Linked DNA regions of Homo sapiens: region 2 is linked to region 1. The links come from fine-mapping of genetic effects on gene expression. A gene starts in region 1. The other region holds a variant in brackets. All regions are shown on one strand. Distances are between the middles of the regions. Region 1 holds the start of HIC2 (HIC ZBTB transcriptional repressor 2). Region 2 overlaps HIC2 (HIC ZBTB transcriptional repressor 2).

The links. PIP is the estimated chance that this variant, and not a neighbour inherited with it, causes the effect.
Region 2: its variant is the best candidate, but not a certain one, in a credible set for the expression of HIC2 in whole blood (TOPMed, PIP 0.61).

Annotation. Positions count from the first base shown.
Region 1 is chr22:21,415,372-21,419,748 of GRCh38, forward strand. It overlaps HIC2 (HIC ZBTB transcriptional repressor 2), which reads left to right and starts at 2,000. Exons shown (of 3, transcript NM_015094.3): 1 at 2,000-2,189.
Region 2 is chr22:21,442,379-21,446,681 of GRCh38, forward strand. HIC2 (HIC ZBTB transcriptional repressor 2) reads left to right here. Exons shown (of 3, transcript NM_015094.3): 2 at 381-479; 3 at 2,544-4,303. The coding sequence starts at 454. Among named protein-coding and RNA genes, the nearest start is that of TMEM191C, 23 kb to the right of the region's middle. The variant A/AGG (reference allele first, on the strand shown) is at 2,192.

The DNA of each region.
Region 1 (4,377 bases):
TCCCAGGAGTTTGAGGCTACACTCCAGCCTGGGCAACAGAGTGAGACTCCGAGTCTCCAAAAAACAAAAAAAGACAAAAGAACCCCAAAAAAACAACTTTTGGCTCATACCGCCAAACTCATGTCCAGGAATTTTGAGGTGATTTATGTGCTTCCAAAAGTATATGAGAGTGATTACCTATCAGACCTTGTGTTTGAAGGTTATCACTTGAAACTGATTTTTAATTTGTTTAGGAGAAAACCCAGCTTCTTATAGTTTTATTTTATTTATTTATTTATTTTTTTGAGACGGAGTCTCGCTGTCGCCCAGGTTGGAGTGCAGTGGCACGATCTCGGCTCACTGCAGGCTCCGCCCCCCGGGGTTCACGCCATTCTCCTGCCTCAGCCTCCCGAGTAGCTGGGACTACAAGCGCCCGCCACCTCGCCTGGCTAATTTTTTGTATTTTTAGTACAGACGGGGTGTCACCGTGTTAGCCAGGATGGTCTCGATCTCCTGACCTCGTGATCCGCCCGCCTTGGCCTCCCAAAGTGCTGGGATTACAGGCGTGAGCCACCGCGCCCGGCCTATAGTTTTAATTTATATGTCTTGGGTTAGTAGAATGGTTGACTTTTTTTTTCAGTCGTTCCTTCAAATAGTGAGTCCTCTGCTAGGCTCTATTTGTGGAATATTCTTGTTCTTCTTCAGGGATGTTTGATAGCTCTTTTTTTTCCACAGATGTTTGATATTTCCTTTTTCATCTATTGTGTTCTTACCATTTCTAGGATGTTTCTAGGCTTTCTATTCTATTTCCTGTTCTGTACCACACTGAAATGCCTGCGGTAGCTTTACAATTTGTTTTGATATCTGTTAGGGCAAGTCTACCCTCATGCCTGCTTTTGTTCCCAAGGGGGGAAAACCATAGCTGTTTTCGGCTATTTATTTTTCCAGGTGAACTTAGAATTTTGTGAAGTCTAAGAAATGTTGTTAGGATGACATTAAACCTATACATCCATTAGGAAAGAAAGGTTGCATCATCAGCTTGGCGAAGGGTTATTGAAACTGGTTTTTGATCTTGACTGGAGCTGGGGCACAACTTCCCTGTAAGGCAGACCTGGGCTCCTCTTGGACTTGGGCGACCTCGATAGTGGTGTGTTCCTTTGTTTGGTGTTCAAAGTAGAGAGCGGTCCATTAACTAGCTCCCTAGAGAAGCAGTGGCGGCTCAGGCCAGCCCAGCCCCTGGGAAGGCTATCTGCATGGCGGCCGGGAGCCCGGGTCCTGGTGGGCCGGCTCGGGCAGGCGCTTGACCCCTGGGGCCTGCGAGGGGCTGCGGCCACCGGAAGGGGCTGGCTGAGCGCAGCGTGCTGGGTCCTCCGCGCCCTCGGAGCAGGTAGGGTTCGCGGGGGTGCGCCCGCGGGGGCCCGAGGGGCGCTGGGGTCACGGGAGGGGCGCCCCTTCTCTTTTGCACCCAACCAGCCCGGGCTTCCCCAGGAGCCCAGACCCCCGAGCTTGCAGTCACTGCTGGCTGCGCCTTTGAGCCTCGGGCAACCGCAGGGAGCGTCGAGCAGGGGTCGCAAAGGGGTCGGGGAGGGGGCGCGTAGGCCGATAGAGGTCCCTAATTCGGGGCTCCTAGGGGTCAGGGTAGGGCTAAAAGGGGGTAAGTCCACCAGAGTTTGAGGGGGTGGGCGTCAGCCTGTCGGGGGGGGCCAGGGTCCCTGTCCCGGGGGCCGGTATGCGGTCCGGGTATTTCAGGGGCGAGGTCGCGGTCCTGCCCTGGCGCTTGAGGTCGGAGTCCGGTTAGATGTCCGGGGTCTGGGTCCCCGGCTCCTCCCGCGCACCCCTCCCCCACGGCGCCGGACCCCGGCAGCCCGCCCCGCCTAGTGCTGGGACCGCTGTCCGGCCCGGCCCCGCCCCCGCAGGCCCCGCCCCTGTTCACAGGCCACGCCCCCAGCTGCCCCCTGTCCCCGCCCCGCCGCTCGCCCATTCAGATGTGGGTCAGGGGTGAGCGGGCGGCGCCGACGTCACAAGCTTCCAAGATGGCGCTGGGCGGGCGGCTGTGAGCGGCGCTCGGGGCGCGCTAGGCGGGGAGCCGAGCCGGGCTGGCGGCAGGCGGACGGGGCGGGCGCGTGCGGCGCGAGCCGGGCGCTGAGGACAAGGGCCGCTGGTAGGGCCGGCCGGCCGGCGGGCGGAGCGCCGCCGCCGACGCACACGAGGTGAGGGGCGGCCTTGTGGGGCGGGGGGCGCGGGGAGCGGGCGGGGGCCGGGGCCGCGGGCTGGGCGCGTCCCCGGGGAGAGGGGCGTGGACGCGCGCGCGCCCGGGCGACGTGGGACTGCGCGCGTGGGGGACGCGCTAGCGTCTGGCGGGCCTGGGCTGGGGCGCACGCGGGACCCCTGGCAGGCCCGGGCTTTGTGGGCCAGATGCCCGGAGGGGCGCGGGCGGTGGGGCACCCGGGGCACAAAGCCCACCGGGCCGCGCCAGGCCCAGGCGGCGCGGGTCTGCGGAGCGGGGGTCGGCGGGCGAGCGGGCGCCGGCTCTTTGTGCCTTTTCATTAGCAATCTAATCCGAACAGCGTCGGGCGAGCTGCGCTGCCTGACAGGCGGGAGGGCTCCCATTATGCAAACGGCCCTGCGCCCGCGTTCGCCCCCTCGCTAGAGGATTTTGCGATTTCCAGGACTGCGGTCCTGCACCGTCTGCGGTCTCCTCTCCTCTTGCCTCCTCCCCGCGGGAAGACTGGCCACGGCAGGGGCAGGGGCGGGCCTGGAGGGGCCGCTCCCAGAGGGCCGGGCTCTGCGGCTGGTGGGCTCGCTGCCCTGCCCCCAGACCTCTCCTGTAGGCAGCCGCTTGGCAGGAAGAGAGATGGGCTTGGGGGAGGGGGTCGGCTTTCAGGGGGAAGGGACCGGCTGGCTGAGGGAGGGGGCTGAGGGGCCCCAGCTTGTCACTCTCTGTTTATCTTCCAAGATGGTTCATATTCACACAGGCCTGGGTGTGTGCGTGGTTGGGGGGGGTGGGGGGGAATGCCTCTCCCTGGGGGGCAGTGACTTGCTGAGAGGAGGGAATGAGGCCAGATAATGCTCCCAACGGCCCCACCCAGAACTGCCTGGGACTGCCTGTGTAAGGGAGCCCAGTGCTGAGCCGGATGGGTTGGAGCGGTGTTAAAGTTATTTATCCATGTCTTCTCCTGTCCCCCGCACCCCTAGTCTTTTCTAGTAGGAGTTGCCAAGCACATCTGGAAAGCTGTGTTCCCCGACCCCCCACTCCCCCAACAGCAGGAGGGGTGTAACCCAGGGAAGCCACCCCTCTGACATATGTGCTGGGGGGAGGGGCAGAGCCTTGCCCCTAGGAATCCTGTGGCGGTGGGTTGTTGACTGATGTGGGATTGCTGTGTCTCTTGTGCTGTCGGAGAGCTGGCAGGTAGTGGAGGGGCCTTGGGAGCTCCTAGGCTGAACTTGGGGCTGTCCTCCAAGGATCCAGGATGGAGGGATGGAGCTGGGTCACTCAAACCTAAGGCCTTTCTGGGTCTAGCATTTATTGCTTCCTGGCTTCTGGCTTGGCTTCTTTTCGTCCATTCTCATCTGCCAGTGTCTGGACTCCCTGGGCCTTCAGGCAGGCATTTTCAGGAGCACAGGCCATGTGGTTGGTCTGGAGCCCTGTGTCAAGGAGAGTGTGCGTGCTTGGTGGAGCAGGGTTGCTGGAGTAGTGTGAAAAAAAGCAGATGAGCTGGCCTCTGGAGACAAAGCTGTGTGGCAAGACTGCTGGTTTAGTGGGCTCTGAACACCAAGAACAGGGCCGGGAGTCTGATACTTGGGGGCTGAACTGAGTCCTGTGGCGCAGGATTGTTGCCTGGAAGTGAACGTTCCGTCTTGTGCCATTGAGACTGTGAAGATCTCTGGGTCCCACAGGACGAGCAGTAGACTTGGAAGGCTGGGAAGAGGCTCCCCAGCTGCCTGCCTTGGGAGGTCAGAGCTCTCAGGTGGGTCGGCAGGCCAGTGTCGGGCTGGGGGAGGGAGGTTGTAGTAGAGTGCCTGTGGCCCAGCTTCTCTGGTCAGTTGGCTCTGAGTGCTGCTGTGTGCCCAGCAACCTCTCCCTGCGGTGTTTTTCTGCCAGTTGTTGGAACTTGTAGATTAGTCACTGAGTTTTTACGACCGATTCCTGAAAAGAAAAATCTCCCTCTGGTTGCTGCCTCTGTGTAGAGGAAGAAGCAGCCCGAGGGAGTCAGGCCTTTAATTAAAGCAAAACCGAAATGATTGTCGAAGTTGCTGGAAGGAGAAGAGAAGGCGCAGGTGGGGCAGGGGTGATGAGTCCTGTTGTGCTGCATGATACCTGCTCTGGGGACAGGTAGGCACGATCCCATCCTCGATCCTTGGTCTTGGCCAGCAGCCCAGCCTTCTCCACAAGCTGCA
Region 2 (4,303 bases), 27 kb after region 1:
GCTCCAATTTTGACCTTTTGTTATGTAAATGTGGCCAGCTTGGGAAGGGCCCTGCCCAGGCCTCCTGCTACCACACCCGCAGGCCAAGAATTGTGTGTCTGCCACCAGCGCCCCCTGGCCTAGGTGGCCCCTGGGTGTCCTTAATCTCCTGTGTGTGTTAGAGGGGCAGGCATTGCACCCACCGAACTCCCTAGACCTGTTCGCTGGTCCTTACTCTTCCTGGCTGTCAGATCCAACTACCAGGCTCTGTGGCCACAGTCTCCTGCTGGGCTGCCCCTGGTGCCCCAGCCAGAGACCCCCAGGTGCGTCCCTTCATCGCCCTTCCCTCCCTTCTTCGCTGATGGCTGTCTGGGTGACTGTGTTCGTCTTCTCTTCCCCAGGTGACCAGGCATTGATGCACCCCCAGGAAGGCCACGCGCTCAGGAGCCCCCCCCGCCGCTGGCTGCTGCTCACATGGTGTCTGGGCCCTTGGCACTCCGGTGAGGCGCAGGGGAGGGGGGACCGCCACTGGCCCCTTTCCCCGGAGTTTCTGGGTGGCACACAGCCCCACAGCTCGGCCTCTATCTGTCTGACCCGTGGTCCTTTGTGTGCACACAGCACTGGGCAGTGTGGAGGGAGCCTGGAGGCCACTGCCCTCTTCCAGTCCCCTTGCCAGTCTCGGGGTACCAGGTGTCTGGGTGCTGGCAGAGCCGGCACTGATGTTTTCTGGGGGCTAGGTTACTGGGGCCAAGTGTGGAAGCCACACCTTGGGGGCTCTTTGTCCCTGCCTGGTGGGTTGAGGCGGGCAGGGAGTGGAGGAGGATTGGTTCACGAAGTCTCCAGCCCATGAGCACCCTCCTGAACTGCTGTGGGCTGGGCTGCTAGGCAGAGAGCCGCTGGCGGGTGCTTGCTGCCTCTTGCTGTTAGGCTCTGAGTGCCAGCGGTGTTCCAGGCTGTGTTGCACCCTTGCGTGTTCACATTGAGCTCTGGCACCTTCAGGGGCCTGTGAATGTTAGGGTTTTTCTTTGTCTTTGCAAACAAGGGTAGGCATGAGGCTGGGGAGAGTTTCTGTCATGAGAAGGTTGGGTAGGGTGGGACCCTTTCCAGGCCTCTGCTCTGGGAGGCAGGGCTGGACACTCTGGGAGGGGCAGTAGATCCCAGAGGGCGGTGGGCTCAGAGTAGTTCAGCTGCTGAGAGACTGGACCCTGAACTGCGAGGCTCAGAGCTGCCTGTGGGCCCCGCTGCTCGGTTGTCCGTCAGCCATGAGGAAAGTTCATGTTTTCACTGGCCCCCTGCCCTGTGGAAGCCTGTGAGCCTATCCGGGGCACAGGTGGCCACCTGGACACTGGCATGCCTTCCCCAGCACCCTCCTGCTGAGCCATTCTCTGAGGGACTCTGGTAGGGGTGAGAGGATGGAGCTGGGAGTACTGCGTTTTGTACTGGGGAGTTGGGCTTAGGGCTGAGGATGGCTTTGAGTCATTCAAAGCCTTCCAGAGTCATTCTTTATACCGCCGGCCACAGTCCTTGCCTCCGCCCTTGGAGGGACATTTCCCTCCTCCCCCCGGCGTCTATCTGGTGCCCACTGTGCACCCATTTGCCCTGCCCTTGTACTCCCACTGTGGGGTGCCTGGTCCATGGCAGAGGAGGCTGCTCAGTGGGGATGGGAAGCGTGGCGAGGAGCACCCGCTCAGAACCCCATGTCTTGCTGCTGCATAAGCAGGAACACACCTGGGCCGTCAGAGTTCCTGCAGAGACCAGCGGCGTCAGTGTGCTTCTTGCTTACTGATCTCAGTTAGTGCCTGTGCCATTCTGTGTGATGGAGGCCAGCTGTCCACCTTTCCTAGGCCCAGATGGTGCTGCCCTTCCTAGAGAGGACGGAGGGTTCAGGTGGTGCCAGGTGCTTGGCCTAAGCTACCTTTCCTCCTTGGCAGCTGGAAGCCCAGGCTGGGGCAGCACTTGGCGCCCGCCCAGAGTGCGAGGCAGCCCAGGGCCTTGGGGAGAGGCAGGGCTGGCTGCAGGCTGACTGCAGCATCTGGGAGGCAGCAACATGACTGCTGGCAGTTTGATTTGGGCCCTGCCGTATTTCAAAAGGAACCACCATTTAGTTTTGGGGGATTTTTGCCAGCTTTCAAGACAAGCTCCTCTCACGGAGTCCTCTGCTTCCCGAAGTTTAAAGCCATCTGGTCATTTTTGGGTCCCCTTCTGGTCCCTG[A/AGG]GGGTTGACTTCATTTAGTGTAGAGACAGTAGCCCGGGCTGTGAAACCAAATGCAAATCCCAGTTTCTCTATTTGTCCCCTCATCACCCTCCACCTCCATTTTCTCATTAGTGCAAATGGGGCAGGGGCCTCTGTCCCTTCTCAGTTTGAGTCCTCAGTGAGGTGACACGTGTACTGCGCCTGCATGTGGTGGGCATTGTGGGCTTATGTGCCGTGTACTGTGCCGCAGGGGCTCCTGCCCTATGTGGGGTCAGTTCTGAGGCCCTTTGCCTCGTCGAGCCCCACCCTGCCCCAGAGCCCTGGTCCGAGTGTGCCAGTCATCTGACGCATGCGTGCCTGTTCTTGCCCACAGGTGGTGCGCGTGGGCAGGGCGCGGGGACATGGGGCCCGACATGGAGCTGCCCAGCCACTCGAAGCAGCTCCTGCTGCAGCTGAACCAGCAGAGGACCAAGGGCTTCCTGTGTGACGTCATCATCATGGTGGAGAACTCCATCTTCCGGGCCCACAAGAACGTCCTAGCCGCCAGCAGCATCTATTTCAAGTCCCTGGTCCTGCACGACAACCTCATCAACCTGGACACAGACATGGTCAGCTCCACAGTGTTCCAGCAGATCTTGGACTTCATCTACACAGGCAAGCTGCTGCCCAGCGACCAGCCAGCCGAGCCCAACTTCAGCACCCTCCTCACTGCCGCCAGCTACCTCCAGCTGCCCGAGTTGGCAGCCCTCTGCCGCCGCAAACTCAAGCGAGCCGGCAAGCCCTTTGGCTCTGGGAGGGCGGGGTCCACTGGCATGGGGCGGCCCCCCCGCAGCCAGCGGCTGTCCACGGCCTCTGTCATCCAAGCTCGGTATCAGGGGCTCGTGGATGGGCGCAAGGGGGCCCACGCCCCCCAGGAGCTCCCCCAAGCCAAAGGCTCAGACGATGAACTCTTTCTTGGTGGCTCTAACCAGGATAGCGTGCAAGGTCTGGGCCGGGCTGTCTGCCCAGCTGGCGGGGAGGCGGGTCTGGGGGGCTGCAGCAGCAGCACCAACGGGAGCAGCGGGGGCTGCGAGCAGGAGCTGGGCTTGGACCTGTCCAAGAAAAGCCCACCCTTGCCCCCTGCCACCCCAGGTCCCCACCTCACTCCCGATGACGCAGCCCAGCTGAGCGACAGCCAACATGGCTCGCCCCCTGCGGCCTCTGCTCCTCCCGTTGCCAACAGTGCCTCTTATTCTGAGCTGGGGGGCACCCCTGATGAGCCCATGGATCTGGAGGGGGCCGAGGACAACCACCTGAGCCTGCTGGAGGCGCCTGGTGGGCAGCCTCGGAAGAGCCTCCGGCACTCCACTCGGAAGAAGGAGTGGGGCAAGAAGGAGCCTGTGGCTGGCTCCCCCTTTGAGCGGAGAGAAGCAGGGCCCAAGGGTCCCTGCCCGGGAGAGGAGGGTGAGGGGGTCGGGGACAGGGTTCCCAATGGCATCCTGGCTAGTGGGGCTGGCCCTAGCGGGCCCTATGGGGAGCCCCCCTACCCCTGCAAGGAGGAGGAGGAGAACGGCAAGGATGCAAGTGAAGACAGTGCGCAGAGCGGGAGCGAGGGGGGCAGCGGCCATGCCAGCGCCCACTACATGTACCGGCAGGAGGGCTACGAGACGGTGTCCTACGGGGACAACTTGTATGTGTGCATTCCCTGCGCCAAGGGCTTCCCCAGCTCTGAGCAGCTCAATGCGCACGTGGAGACTCACACGGAGGAAGAGCTGTTCATCAAGGAAGAGGGGGCCTACGAGACAGGCAGTGGGGGTGCCGAGGAGGAGGCCGAGGACCTGTCAGCACCCAGTGCGGCCTACACGGCTGAGCCCCGGCCCTTCAAGTGTTCGGTCTGCGAGAAGACCTACAAGGACCCAGCCACGCTGCGGCAGCACGAGAAGACGCACTGGCTGACACGGCCCTTCCCCTGCAACATCTGTGGCAAAATGTTCACGCAGCGCGGCACCATGACGCGTCACATGCGGAGCCACCTGGGCCTGAAGCCCTTCGCCTGCGATGAGTGTGGCATGCGCTTCACCCGTCAGTACCGCCTCACGGAGCACATGCGTGTGCACTCGGGCGAGAAACCTTACGAGTGCCAGCTGTGCGGGG